Linked DNA regions of Homo sapiens: region 2 is linked to region 1. A link means that fine-mapping ties the variant in region 1 to the expression of a gene that starts in the linked region. Tissue or cell type: unexposed skin. Region 1 holds a variant in brackets; the other region holds the start of a gene. All regions are shown on one strand. Distances are between the middles of the regions.

Region 1 (8,002 bases):
ATGGAAATGAATAGCACTAAATGCCCACATAAAAAAGTTAGAAAGATTTCAAATTAACAAACTACATTACAACTAAAAGAACTAGAGAAGCAACAGCACACCAACCCTAAAGCTAGTGGGAGACAAGAAATAACCAAAATCACAGCTGAACTGGAGGAGACTGAGACACAAAAAGCCATTCAAAAGATCAATGAACCCAGGGGTTGTTTCTATGAAAAAATTAATAAGATAAATATATTGCTAGCCAGGCTAATAAAGAAGAAAACAGAAGATCCAAATAAACACAATTAGAAATGACAAAGGGGATATTACCACTGACACCACCAAAATGCAAATGACCATCAGAGACTACCATGTATACCTCTATACACACAAACTAGAAAACCTAGAAGAAATGAATAAATTCATGGACACATATACCCTCCTAAGACTGAACTGGGAAGAAATTGATTCCCTAAATAGACCAATAATGAGCTCTGAAATTAAATCAGTAATAAATAGCCTAACAACCAAGAAAACCCCAAGACCAGATGGAGTCACATTCAAACTCTACCAGATATACAAAGAAGAGCTGGTACCATTCCTACTGAAATGATTCGAAAAAATTGAGGAGGATAAACTCCTCCCCAACTCATTCTGTGAGACCAGTATCATCCTGATACCAAAACCTGGCGGAGATACAATAACAACAACAAGGCCTCAGGCCAATATTCTCAATGAAAATTGATGCAAAAATCCTCAAAAAAATACTAACAAACTGAATCCTGCAGCTTATTAAAAAGCTAATCCACCACAATCAAGTAGGCTTTATCCCTGGGATGCAAGGTTGGTTTGACATATGGACATCAATAAACATGATTCATCACATAAACAGAACTAAAGGCAAAACCACATGATCACCTCTATAGATGCAGAAAATGCTTTCAATAAAATTTAACACCCTTCATGTTAAAAACTCTCAATAAACTAGGCATTGAAGGAATACACCTCAAAATAATAAGAGCCATCTATGACAAACCCACAGCCAACATCATACTGAATGGGCAAAAGCTGGAAGCATTCCCCTTGAAAACTGGCACAAGACAAGGATGTTCTCTCTCACCACACCTATTCAATGCAGTATTGGAAGTTCTGGCCAGGGCAATCAGGCAAGAGCAAGAAATAAAGGGCATCCAAATAGGAAGAGAGGAAGTCAATCTATCCCTGTTTGCAGATGGCATAATCCTACATCTAGAAAATCCCATAGTCTCCTCCCCAAACCTTCTTCAGCTGATAAACAACATCAGCAAATTTTCAGGATACAAAATCAACACACAAAAATCACTAGCATTCCTATACATCAAAACAACCAAGCTGAGAGCCAAGTCCCATTCCCAGTTGCCACAAAAAGAATAAAATACCTAGGAATACAGCTCACCAGGGAGGTGAAAGATATCTAAAATGAAAGCTACAAAACACTACTCAAAGAAATCAGAGATGACACAAAAAATGGAAAAAACATTCCATGCTCATGGATAGTAAGAATCAATATCTTTAAAATGGCCATGCTGCCCAAAGCAATTTACAGATTCAACGCTATTCCTATCAAACTACCAATGAAATTCTTCACGGAAATAGAAAAAACAATTTTAAAATTCATGTGGAAGCCAGGTGCGGTGGCTCACGCCTGTAATCCCAGCACTTTGGAAGGCTGAGGAGGGTGGATCACGAGGTCAAGAGATCAAGACCATCATGGCCAACATGGTGAAACCCCGTCTCCACTAAAAATACAAAAATTAGCTGGGTCTGGTGGCACATGCCTGTAGTCCCAGCTACTCGGGGTTGGGGGTGGGGGTGGGTGCTGAGGCAGGAGAATCGCTTGAACCCAGGAGGCAGAGGTTGCAGTGAGCAGAGATCATTCCACTGGACTCCAGCCTGGTGACAGAGCAAGACTCCATCTCAAAAAAAAAATAATAATAATAATATGGAACCAAAAAAAGAGCTTGAATAACCAAGGCAATTCTAAGCAAAAATAACAAAGCAGGAGACATCACACTAATCGAATTCAAACTATACTATAGGGCTACAGTAACCAGAACACCATGGTACTGGTACGAAAGCAGATGCATAGACCAAGGGAACAGAATCAAGAGCCCAGAAATAAAGCAGCACACCTACAACCATCTGATATTCGACAAGGCTGACAAAAGTAAGCAATAAGGAAAGTACTCCCTATTCAACAAATGGTGTTGGGATAACTGGGTAGCCATATGCAGAAGACTGAAAGTGGGACCCTTTCTTACACCACACGCAAAATCAAATCACAATGGATTCAGAACTTATATGTAAAACCCAAAACTATAACAATCCTGGAAAATAGCCCAGGCAATACCATTCTGGACATAGGAACTGGCAAATATTTCATGACGAAGATGCCAAAAACAATGACAGCAAAAACAAAAATTGACAAATAGGATCTGATTAAAGAGCTTCTGCACAACAAAATAAATTATCAACAGAGCAAACAGACAGCTTACAGAATGGGAGAACATATTTGCAAACTATGCATCTGACAAGTTCTAATAACCAGTATTTACAAGGAACTTAAACAAATTTACAACAAAAAACCAAACAACCCCTTTAAAAAGTAGGCAAAAGACATAAACAGATGCTTTTCAAAAGAAGACATATATAGGGCCAACAAGCATGTGAAATAAAAGCTCAATATCACTGATCATTAGAGAAATGCAAATCAAAATCACAATGAGATACCATCTCACACCAGTCAGAATGGCTATTATTAAATAGTCATTTAAAAAAATAACAGATGCTGGCAAGGTTGTGGAGAGAAGGGAACACTTATACACTGTTACTGGGAGTGTAAGTTAGTTCAACCATTGTGGAAAGCAGTGTGGCAATTCCTCAAAGAGCTAGAAACAGAACTACTATTTGACCCAGAAATTCTGTTACTGAGTATATACCCAAAGGAATATAAATTGTTCTATCATAAAGGCACATGCACATGTATGTTCATCGCAGCACTGTTCATGATAGTAAAGACATGGAATCAACCTAAATGCACATCAATGGTAGACTGGATAAAGAAAATGTAGTACATATACACCACGGAATACCATGCAGCTATGAAAAATAATGAGATCATGTCCTTTGGAAGCAGATGGACAGAGCTGGAGGCCATTATCCTTACCAAACTATTGCAGGAAGAGAAAACCAAAGACCACATGTTCTTACTTATAAGTAGGAGCTAAATGAGACACAAAGAGAGGAACAACACATTCTGGGGCGTTCCTGAGGGTGGAGGGTGGGAGGAGGGAAAGGATCAGAAAAAATAACTATTGGCTACTAGGCTTTGTACCTGGATGGCCAAATAATCTGTACAACAAACACCCATGACATGAGATTACCAATGGAACAAACCTGCACATGTACCCCTGAGCTTCAAATAAAAGTTCAGAAACAGACAAAACCAAACAAAAACCAAATTAGCCCTAGCATTTGTGGAGGCATACATACTATATTCCTCAATATTTACATGTTTAAAGTTAACAAATTATTGAGTAAAATGTTTTATCATCCTACATTGACAAAATTATATTTATAACATTTTTAAATGTGAAGAACTATGTTACATTTAAATAGCTGCAAGTTAGTAAATGTAAAAGATGATTTATTTTAATTATGCTTGGCATGTCTGGCCTTCTAGTGATAGGCCAGTGATGTTTGAATGGTATAAAGCAAAGATATATATAATGAATACATTATTATATATTTATTTCATAAGCATTTTTTTCTTCATTTTAGAAAAATTGCTAATTATGTTATAATCAATATTTTCATTTAATTTGTATTGACAGCATGCTAAATGAGAGGACATTGCTTGATTTATTAAAACTTTTTGATAGATTTTAAAATTAATTTTAATTGGCCAAACTATCACTCTGC[T/C]GAAACAATAACATCTGGAATTTTTAATGAAATTCTTAAAGCAATACTTGATTTAGTAATGGACCATGAATTTTACATATCATGTTTGAGCATTGGTTTGCATATGATAAACTAATATTACCCCATGAGATTTTACAAAACATTTAAAATTTCATTGCTATCACTTATGTTGTAATTTATAGTCTTTTAAGTAAGATCTAATCTGTATACTAATGTAAAAAACTGATAGCACAGTCAACTGATGCTATATCTAGATTTATATATTCAGTTATGTAATATTGAAAATTGTTCCTCAGCCACCATGTACAACTTGGTGATTATCATGCTAATTTATGAGTATTTTCAGAACCACAAATGAAACACACACACAAAAACAGAAATGTTCACTTTAGGCACTACTGGGATTTTGGGGGGCGTTTTGTTGTTGTTGTTATGCAAGAAACTATTACATTGCCCTTGTTTCAGAATTGCCTTGTAGATATGTGATGCTGTCAACAAATAGTTCTATTTCTAAACAAAGAAGTATATTTTTAGGTCGTAAGAAACAAAGCCAAATCTCTAGTTTGTTAGATTCTAATGATAGAAGGAAAAGGCAGATACCTTAAAAGATCACAGATATTTGAAATCATAAATTGAACACACATACCTGCCTACCAATAAGATATAAAGATACCATAAATTGTTGATGTTAATTTGTAATTAAATAACATTTTTTAGAAAAACTTTACTTAAAATAGTCTTAAATGTACATAATAATGCCAAATTTCTATGACTCAAAAATATTTACAACCGCCATTTTCAATACAAGTGAAACTCATGAATCATTATAAGAGCAAAATATTGATTTAGCAAGGAGTAGTCTGTTGAATATTAAGAAATAATTAATATTCAGGAAGTTTTTATTGACAACTCTGTGGCAGAATCTCAATATAAACAAGATATAGATGATTTTAAATCAACCTCCCCCACACATATATATACATGCAAAGCATGGCAATGTATTTTATTGCTAACTTGTGAGATCTATTTTGTTACTTCATTGATACCCATTCATATACTTACTTTTGGATTTTTTTTAATTAGAAGTTAGGATGAAGGAATTAATTGAGTTCTAAAAATCCCTAACTCTCTACCTTGTTTAACATACTTAGACTTAAACAGTGAAACTCAATAGCCTTCTGGGCTTTTGATGAACAAAGAGCTATCAGTTTATAGAGCAAAAATAGAACCTGTCCCTGAACAACCAATTATATTCAGTAACTTAATGACTATTTGAGTACATATCATATGCCAGCCACTGTTCTACACATTGATTTACAACAATGAACAAAAGCAAAGCATCCTACCTTCAAGGAGCTTACATTCTAGAAATGGAATGGAGTGGGGGTGGGGGTGTAGAGAGCAAATATATCAGTAAATTATGTGGAATGCATGAGGATAAATACTATGAGGAAAATAAATTAGGATAAAGGAATGGGAGTGCTGGGCAGAGGTTGCAGTTTTAAAGGGATTGTCAGAGAAGAACTTACTGAGAAAATGACATGAGTCATAAAAGAGGTTATTTTTAAAAACTTTTTTTAAATTTTGAAATACTGTCAAATGTACAGAAAAATTACAAGTACAATGCAAAGAATGTTATTTTCCTAAATCATTAGACAGTAAGTGGCTGACTCATCACCCTCAAATACTTTGAGGTATATTCTTTACAAACAAAGACATTCTTCCTACATAAACCATAGTATAACCACTATAATAAAGAGATTATCATTTCTACATTACAAGCATCAAATCCATATCAAGTTCACAGACCCCATTTACATTTCTCCATTTGTCCCAATAATGTCCTTTATTGCAAAAGGATCTATTTCAGAATTGTGTGTTGTATTTGTCTTTTTTTGTCTCTTCAATTTGGAATTATTCCTCAGCCTTTCTTTGAATTTCATGACCTTCACCATTTAAAACAAAATTACAGGACACTTATTTTGTAAAATGTTTTTAAATAGGATTTGTCTGATGTTTCTTTATGGTTATATTCAGATTTTGCATCTATGGCAGGAATATCACAGAATTTCATTCTATCAGGTCGCTAATAATTTAAATTTGTCCCACTATTGAGGCTATTAACTTGAATCACTTAAGGTATAGTCTGCCAGCTTTCTCCATTGTGAATTATTCTTTTTTTTTTTTTTTGTAATTTCTAAGTATTTTGTGGAGAGATACTTTGAAACTTTGCTCCACACTCTATTTCTCATCAAATTTTCTATGTATTCATTTATTTATATAAATTGAAGCCATGCATAATAAATTTTTACTACTGTTACTACCAGGCTTAAGGGCCCCAGATTTGACCAGTAGGAGCTCTTTCAAGCTGATGCCCATGTGCTTTACATGTCCCTATTTTTCTAAGGCACTTCCTTGCTTTTGAAGACAAGATATTTCAGGCCCATCTAGTACTTCGTCAAGCCCATCCCTGAAATCAGTCACTTCTTCAAGGAAGACTTGGCTCCTTTTAGTGGACACTGATTTTTAAGCCATGATCTGGGTGCTTGGTGTGCTGATTCCTACCGCAGGTGGGGTGTGTGGATGGGGTGGTCAGTGCTCCAAGGCCCTGTCAGTGGTTAGATGTAGGAAGTATATGTATGTGGACACATACATATGTGCACACACATACGTGTAAATACACATGTACATATTTAAAACTGCATTAATTTCTACATCTATCTCTAAATATTGAAATCCATGGCCAGGTGTGGTGGCTCACACCTGTAATCCCAGCACTTTGGGAGGCCGAGGCGGGGAGATCACAAGGTCAGGAGATCGAGACCATCCTAGCTAACATGGTGAAACCCTGTCTCGACTAAAAATACAAAAAATTAGCCAGGTGTGGTGGAGGGCGCCTGTAGTCCTAGCTACTTGGGAGGCTGAGGCAGGAGAATGGCATGAACCTGGGAGGTGGAGCTCGCAGTGAGCCGAGATCGTGCCACTGCACTCCAGCCTGGGCGACAGAGCGAGACTCTGTCTCAAAAAGAAAAAAATAGAAATCCATGAGTTACATTGGCACCTTCAATTCCAATCCAACACCAGAGAATCCAACCTAGTTTTCTCCTTTTTGTGTTTATTTTATCAATCTGCTGCTCTGCCTCTCCCAAGTAGAAGCCCCCCACCTCCCCTCGCCCTCCTGAGACAGGGTTACCTCCTTCCCACCAAATGTGCATCTTCCTTGGTCAGGCTTATATACCACATCAGGCTACTTTCCTTGCATGGATGACTTCTTTATCCTCCTTGAACTCTGACACCCCAAACGGGGTCTTCTTCCTATATGGACTCCCCCTTAATCCACTCCAGCTTTGAAACCCATAAGTTGCCCCCATGCATGGATACCCTCCTCAGGCTCTGATTCACTGCAGGACTGCCTCCCCAGGTAGATGCCCTCCTCACTCTCTTCGGGCCCTGATATCCCATACCACATATCTCCTTTGTGTAAGGACCTTCCTTACCCTGCATAAGCTTTCACATCCTGAGCCAAGTCTCTCCCCTCTCCATTGCACCCATTTGAAAGCCCTCCTCATGTGACTCTGGGTCTGACACGTGATGCCAGGTTACTGTCACTCAAGTGTGTCATCCTCACTCTTTTGGGCTCCAAGTCCCCATGCCAGGCTCCCTCTGTGTGGGGGCCTTTCTCACACCACTTGGGAGCTGACATCTCATTCTAGCTCCCTTTTCCTGTGTGGATGCCCTCCTCACCCTTCTCCCATTGACACCACCTGCCAATGTGGTTGCCTTTCTCATTCTTCCTGGGTTTGACACCTCATGCAAGTCAGTCCCTTTGTTGATTCCTGTCTGGCTCTGCTCCACCTAATGTTTTTAAGACTGAATTGCTCAAAAAAAGAAAGGGAAATGGAGGGAAAGGGCAAGTGAAGGGGAGGGGATGGGAAAGAGAAAGCTGAGTTTTATTATATTTTAATAAAAATAATACATGTATGTCACAGCACTATGCCAGTCTGGAATCAGCCTTCAATTTGAACCAGACTCCAACTTTTGTTTCTAAGCCTCTGAGAAA
Region 2 (8,002 bases), 85 kb before region 1:
AAAGAAAATAAAAGGACTTTCTTTTTGATGGACTTCACAGAGAAATGAATCAAGAAAGTAGAAAAATTACTTACACTCTTAAGTATATAATTTTAGAAATCAGGTCACAAATATAAAAGCTGTTTTCAATTCTACATACAATGCGCAAAGAGTAATATAAATAGAATTTACTAATAATTAAAAATAACTGGCTCATTAAGAGATACTACACTTTTAGAAGAAATGAATTAAATTTTGTGAAATATTCTGAAGAAATCTAAACCTTAAGCTTACTAAAACAACCATTTTTTTCTAAAAACAAATGTTGCATTACTAATCAAAGACATCGGATTTAGTTTTATACACATAATTATGAAATATTTGGTTGTTTTAAAACATACAAAGTGGGATTATTAAAGCCTGAGACTGCTTTGGGTCACAACCAGATTTTAAATTGCAAATACAAGAACGATATTTTGCAGAGAATTCAAAAAACGCACAAAAACACACATTCCATTAGTATCCGTAGCTGGCTGACTTTGTTACTGAGAGGCACTGAGGTACAACAGTTAAAAGCATGAATCCATGGCTCTGAAGCAGGATGCCTGCATCCAAACCCATACATCTAGCAACAAATCAAAGCGTATATTCTACTATTCTTCATAAATGTTCAAAACATTATTATTTCTTCATTATTACTGTTCTGGGATGCAATAAGCCTATTTTCAATAAATGATATAATGAGTTGAACTGGCTTTTTTTCATTATTAAAAAAAAAACTGACAGTACTAATACCTTTCCTGCCATTATGAAAGATTTTCATAAAGCTTTTAACAAATATCCTTTAACTGAATTTATTTCTTGGATAAGCACAACAACCTGATATTTCCCCTTTTGTTAAAAGATAAGAGACATCTAAATTCAAAGAAGAAGCAAGCATTTACTTTCCAACTATTTTTGATCAACATTAGAACTACTCAGTAATATAATAAATACTTTTGGTATTATTCTCTAATTCCTTTACACAGACAGCTTCATCATATCCAGTGTCACACGCTATTATGATTTTGAGAGCACACTTAATAGTTAAAATGAGATCCCCATTGTCTGAAACATTTTTATTGCTTATAATCACAGATGATGTAATTAGAATCAATTATTGCTTTATTAGATCTCCAGGTGACTAATGAGTATCTTTCTGGTCGGTTTATAACTTAAGAACATTGAATGCAATTTTGCTGTTTCTTCAATAAGAGATGCTAACACTCAAAAGAGGACTGTAAATCACTAAGACTTCTAAGTGAATTAACTATGTACTATTAACTATTTCATCATATCACCAGCGTAGTGGGGTATCTCTCCGTCCCAATTTGAGCGCCCTTTCATTACGCTAAGGTAACTACAGAAAAACACAGAAAGCCCTCATTTTGCATAGTTCCAATATGCACATTTTAGTTACTATGGTTAAGTAATACCACTCCCTGCAGAAGAGCACAGGTCAAATTTTAGTTAGCATGGCATAATACCTCAATAACTACGTAAAGTATAAACTTTTCTAACTCTTTAGTCCACAAATCACTACATAAATAATTATGTAATTAACAGATGCACACTGTCATCAGTAACCAGCCACATCATTTCTTTCAAAGTATGTTGATGGTTGGTCACTGTGCATCTGTTATGCAGCTCATGCAGAGATAGCAAAGCATGTAGTTTTGTACCTCCTTGTCTCCCAATGATAAAGTATGTGACATTTAGAAAAAGAGATAATAAAAAGAGGAAACTGGCCAACAAAGACGAAATACAGCAAAGAAATGAAAAGTAATAATGCTGAAATTTCAAATAGAAATGCTGAATTTCAAATAGAAAGTAAAGAATTATAGAAGAAACAGATGACCAAGGGAATGCTGACACTATCGCTCTAGATACACAGAGAACTCAGTGAAGGCAAACTTATTGACATAAATGAGGAAAGCGGTTGTGACGAAAATTTTCCAGAGGACGTGAGGCTGGCAAAAAATATTCATATTAAAGGAAATCTCAGAGATACTTCACAACATGGAAAATACAGACAAAATGCTTCATAAAATTAACATATGGCATATAGAATTTATTCAATAACAAATTAAAAATTTCTTACCTTGGTAACTTTTTATACAAGAATCGCTTTAGGTCCTGAAAGAGAGCATTAAAAAATAATGTTGTAATAATAGGCCTTCCACTGTTTTCTAGATCCTGTCCTATCCAAATTTTAAGGAACTTCAGTTATCATTCATAACCTTTCTTGCTGTGTTTTATCTTTCTCTGTCTGATTTGGATGTTTACTAGTCACGCAACTTGGAGTAAGTTAACCAACCTTTTTTCGCTAAGCTTATTTCATTATTTGTTGAATAGGGCTAATATAGAACCTACATCATAAAAGTGTTGTTAAAAGTTTATTGAGAAGATGCATGGATTAGCATACCTAGAAATGGGAAACACATTTTAGCCATAAAATTACATCATAATTTTCATACTAGTGTTTTACATCCTGTTGCTATTGTGTTCACTTGAGAAGACGTTATAAACACCTTTCCATGTTCAAAGATAGACTTTCCACCATCATCTTAATGGTCTTGGGTAAGGTGATATGACCTCTGTAAGACTGTTGTCTCACGTGACTATCACATTATAAAAATATGCCTTCCATTGTTTCATTATTTGTTGAACTCACCTACTCAACAAATAATGAAACAGTGTAAGGCATATTATTATAACGTAATTTTTAAAATATTTTGTTTAAGGACCTAAAATAAATTCTATATGACTATGTGAGGCAACATTTTTTTTTTTTTTTGAGACGGAGTTTCGCTCTTGTTGTCCAGGCTGGAGTGCAATGGCGCGATCTCGGCTCACTGCGACCTCTGCCTCCCAGGTTCAAACGATTCTCCTGCCTCAACCTCCCGAGTAGCTGGGATTACAAGCACCTGCCACCATGCCCAGCTAATTTTTTGTATTTTTAGAAAAGACAACGTTTTACCATGTTGGCCAGGCTGGTCTCGAACTCCTGACCTCAGGTGATCCACCCGCCTTGGCCTCCCAAAGTGCTGGGATTACAGACGTGAGCCACCGCGCCCAGCCCAGTGTTACAGAATATAAAATAAATGACAATGTGTGTCAAGTGTTTAACACGAAACACAGTTAAGACTAAAGAAGTAGAAGACTATTTTATTTTTCTAAGCTGGGGCTCACTGCAACTTCCAACTTCTGGGCTCAAGCAATCGTCTCGCCTCACTTCCAGCATAGCTGTGACTACAGAGGTATCAATGCGCCTGGCTGATTTTTAAATTTCTTTTTGTAGAACGGGGTCTTGCTATGTTGCCCAGGCTGATCTTGAACTCCCGGCCTCAAGTGATCCTTCCATCTCGGCCTCCCAAAGTGCTGAGATTACAGACTAAGCAACCGCATTGGCCAGAAGACTATCTTATTTTGTCTCATTACACTCTCTTATCCCAGGAATTTCACTGACAATTTAGGTATCAATTTTGACCTCACATGGATTAATCAGGTATCTCTTGTTTTGAGCATCCAGCACTTACTATTCTCCAAACCCGACTGATCATTTTATCCTCCTACACACACACACACACACGTTACCATGTTTCTAAAGAGGCATGGGTTAGAAATCATCGTAAATTGCTACAATAAACCAAATGAGATATTGTTATCACTTACTGGAAAAAAGTATTGTGGGTACATGTCCTACTGACCAAATTCTGACAGGAAAAGCAGCAAACCATCATTCAGAATTTCAAATGGTAAATATACAGAGCCTCTCTTATGCCCCAGCTGGACTGGGGAGTAGGGAGAACCTAATTTTCTCAGTCTCAAGCACCTTAGTGTCCTACACCCCCATTCGAGGCAGAAACTCAGGATCCTGCAAATTCATTCATATTAGTCTCCCACTTCAGATATCAGAGAAAATAATTAACTGGGATGGGTGGGGCTGGGAGGATCAAAACAAATTTCTGTTTGGGAAGTTCTACCTCTCCCCGCTCAGTATGCCCCTCAAAATTCCCCACTCTCCCCTTCCTCTTATGTAGGGGTGTCACTCACATCCGCCATGATGAACCCCCTTCTCTCGCAGGATCAATCTCCACGCCTGGAAGAGAAACTCCCGGTGACTCTTCCCTCTTTGGCTTCCTCGTCCTCCCCACCCACAACTTAATACGCGAGATCAGCCCTGGTCAGAACCAGGTAAAACCCCCGCGGTTCTAGGGCTTGGCCCAGCGAGCCCAGTGGGAGTCGGAGTGCCCCAGCACCCCCACAGGTACTCAGCTGGCACACCTTACCTCAGCCCACCCCATCCCTGCCCCTCCACCCCAAAGAGCTAGGCCCAAAGAAAAGAAGAGAGGGTCCTCTCCTTCTGTTTAATCTCACCACCCGCGCCACCTGCGGGACTAGGCCTCAAAACCAGGCAAAGTAGCGCCAGTTACCTGGGGTTTCTGGGCTGCCTGGTTCTCTCCGCTGTCACTTCAGGGACAGCTTTAAAGACAGGTTCCTCCTCAAGCCACCGTCACATGATTCATGACCTCGTCTGCGCTCCAGGAAGCACTTTCTAAGCCGCCGTCGCCCTACGATACGGGATTTCCGGAGGGGCCCGGCGGAAGCTGCGAGGGCGCGTCCGGCGGCCGCGCCCCTCCCCTCCCCCCCGCCCCGCACGCGCCCCGCCCCTCCCCCGCCCACCGCGGGCCGCGTCTTGCGCCTGCGCCTTGTGTCACGGGCCGAAGGAAGTCAGCTGTGGGGTAGATTTGTACGAGATCGCTGGACCCTAAGGAACCCAGAAAATGCAAGCAAGGTTATGTGTTACAAGACATTCTTGTGCAGAGAGGGTGTATAAATGTCATTAGTTTTGCAGGGTCTGTTATCTTAAAACCTTTTCTTGTAGATGAAGAAATTTGAGGGGATGGTGTGATGAGCTGAAGAGCAAGCACCAGATTGCCTGTGATTGGAAGTACCAGGTCCACAGGTTTCTGACCTGTTTCCTAGGCTCTTGTGACTTCCCCATGGGTGCTCTTTACTGAAGGCCTTACCTAGATTGAATGGGGAGGAGCCATGGGTTTTCTGGAGCACTTCAAGCGTCTACTTTTAACATGCAGACACTGATTACGGGCACCTTCTATGTTCCCTTTTACATCAGAATTTTTAAAAATTAGTAAGGTCTCATGTAATAAATAATAATTGAAAAAAATAAAAGGCTTTCCGGGTGCGGTGGCTGACGCCTGTAGTCGCAGCACTTTGGGAGTCCGAGGCGGGACGATCCTTTGAGCCCAGGAGTTCCACAGCAGCCTGGCAAGATAGGACCCCATCTCTACAAATAATAATAATAATTAAGAATTATCCGAACGTGGCGTGCACCAGGTACTCGGGAGGCTGAGGCAGGAGGATCCCTTGAGCCCAGGGTTTGAGGCTGCATCGAGTGGTGATCGCCCCACTGAACTCCAGCTTGTGTGACAGAGCGAGACCCTCAAAAGAAAAGCTTCTTTAGAAATCGCATCCTCTTTCAGCTACCACACTGTTTTTCCTCTACTCCCTTTCATAGCCAAATTTTCAGAAAACTTTAGCCTGGTTTTCAATTGCTGCTTCCATATGTCACAAATCTAATCAGAGTTCTGTTGATTCTACCTCCTATCTTTGAAAACTATTCACCTATCTATATTCCTACCCTACTCCAAGCCATGATCATCTCTCTTTTGACAACAACCTCCTATTCTTCTTACATTCTCTTTTGCCCTCCAGTCTCCACACAGCAACAAAAATGATGTTCTAAAGACCCAAATCACATCATTTAACTCCTTCCTTGAAAATCAAGTTTATTGACTTAGGATAAAGTTCAATATCAGCATCATGGTTTATATATCATTCTTATGGGGATCTGGCCCCTATCTTAATTCTCTCACCTACCCTGGATTCCTTATGCTATGATCATACAAGTTTGTTTTCACTTCCATAAAGATTTTTATCACTTTACCAACTTAGCACGTTCTGCCTGAGATATTTCTCTAGCATACCTTAATCCTACTAATCTCATCTTTTGCATTTTGGCTTAAACTCACTCTCAGAGAAGCCTTCCCTGACCCTCACTGAATAGTTTAGGTCTTCTAGATAAATGCTTTCATTGTACCCTGTAATTTTCTTTGTAGAATTTATCATAATTATAATTATTTACTTGATATTTATTTTCTTTGCTAGATGTAAACTCTTTAAGGTTTTTGTCTTTCTTATTCAGTGATTAATTCCCAGCACCCAGCTCACTGCCTGGGATATAGCAAGCATTGACATACTTGTTGAATAGTTGAATGAATGAAAGAGTGGCCATATTGAGTATAAAACATGATAAAAACAAACATTTTACAGTGAGAACAGACCTTTTTATTAATATATTGAGATAAACTACAGAGACTGAAAGACAAAAATTCATATTTCATTCAGAACATTCATTAAAAATCAAATGCATTTGAGTTCTCACAGAAAATTTTATGTAAGTCTGATATAACATTAAATATTTTACAAATCAGACATTTCATTTTGAAATCTAATTTTTAATCCTGAATGCATTATAGACAAAGTAAGCTCTCCTTTACCAATTTCATTTAACTTATACAAGGCTTCCATTATAATTCCATCAAACCTTAAAAATTACCTGCAGCTTTTAAAAACACATAAAGTAAATGGAAAGAAAGTCTTATGTAGCAATCCAAAAACTAAAACTAGAAATTGGCAAGAAGCATTTCTTAATACAGATAAACTGCAAAATATCATTTATGTGTGTTTCTTCTCATTGGTTTAATCATCCTATTAAAAATAATTTTTTGAAAGTAATAATTACAATACTCCAATGTCACTGAAAATCTCTATGATTTTAATGGTGTCCTTAAATGGCAAAGTAGAATATCAGACTGAAATGTACAGAGTGTTGTGCTGAAGTGAATGAGACTTGCCATGCCAGGTGTCATCTGCTATGCAGTTACAAGACATCTTGGCAACTAGTCATCCCAGTTTTTACTAACTTACTAAACAAGGACATTTCAAGAAATACTTCTTACCCCTATGTATTTCCAGATGGCTGGATATAGAAAGATATAATTATGTTTGAAGCATGGGCCTTATAATAGGAATCTCTCCATTAAAATATGAAAAAGAGCAACAAATAATTCACACCAATGAAATTGTGTTGACTGATTTTCAAAGTCAGACATAAAAATATCCACTGCTAATGGAAGCCCTGCTCTGTGCAAACATAGTGTGGTATATATTAAACAATCACACATTTGAGGTAATTAGCTGGGAAAAAAAAAAAAAAATATATATATATATATATACACCTATACATAGACACATCCACAGAATATTCACAAATCTATTGGCCCCAACACCAGCAGATAGTCATATTAAATGAAAAATATCACATACCAACAGGAAAAAGTTACACATAGGGAATATACAAAAAATATGGTGCTATAATCCTTAATATAAGGAGTATGTTTTGAATTAATGTTTTGAGGAAAAGTGTTTCCATTTATATGAAAGTATCTATTTAATAGTAATAAAACCAAAAAGGAAGCTGAATTCTAGGACTGTTTTACCTGCCAAATAATTGAAGGGATGAGCAAGAATTCCTTGAAAAGCCTCATTCTATCCTTTTTCTTTGTAACTAAAAATTAGAATTTAAAATGTTGGAAATTATTGCCAGACAAGTTTCTTTTCATTGGTTTATAGGGAATTTTATGGATTTTAACTAGGCAATGGTCCAATGTGGTCAACAGACATGGTTTTTCAGCTGTTGAATGAAAATTAAAATAAAGATTTATTGTTGATTTTCATTAGTTTTTCTGTTCAGATAAGAAAAAAGATTATGAATTCCCTTTCAGTTTGCTTCACTCATTATGAAGATGGATAGTAATAGGATAGTACTGAACCCAAGCTTCACATGGGGAAGCTCAAGAAATGTACAAATTCTCTTCTTAACCATTTGGTCCTCTGA

Which allele goes with the higher level. Positions count from the first base shown, and alleles are read on the strand shown. Sizes are in standard deviations (SD) of each study's normalised expression.
For the expression in unexposed skin of the gene that starts at base 4,547 in region 2, allele T in region 1 goes with a lower level than allele C (small effect, 0.33 SD a copy in GTEx).

What was found. PIP is the estimated chance that this variant, and not a neighbour inherited with it, causes the effect.
Region 2: LAMTOR3 starts here. The variant in region 1 is fine-mapped to the expression of LAMTOR3 in unexposed skin (GTEx, PIP above 0.99).

What each region holds. Positions count from the first base shown.
Region 1 is chr4:99,974,538-99,982,539 of GRCh38, forward strand. The region is part of intron 1 of H2AZ1-DT (H2AZ1 divergent transcript); the gene reads left to right. Among named protein-coding and RNA genes, the nearest start is that of H2AZ1-DT, 28 kb to the left of the region's middle. The variant T/C (reference allele first, on the strand shown) is at 3,943.
Region 2 is chr4:99,889,881-99,897,882 of GRCh38, forward strand. It overlaps LAMTOR3 (late endosomal/lysosomal adaptor, MAPK and MTOR activator 3), which reads right to left and starts at 4,547. Exons shown (of 7, transcript NM_021970.4): 1 at 4,455-4,547; 2 at 4,075-4,120; 3 at 2,120-2,154. The coding sequence starts at 4,083. DNAJB14 (DnaJ heat shock protein family (Hsp40) member B14) reads right to left here. Exons shown (of 8, transcript NM_001031723.4): 8 at 6,368-8,002. RefSeq lists a silencer at 4,646-4,735.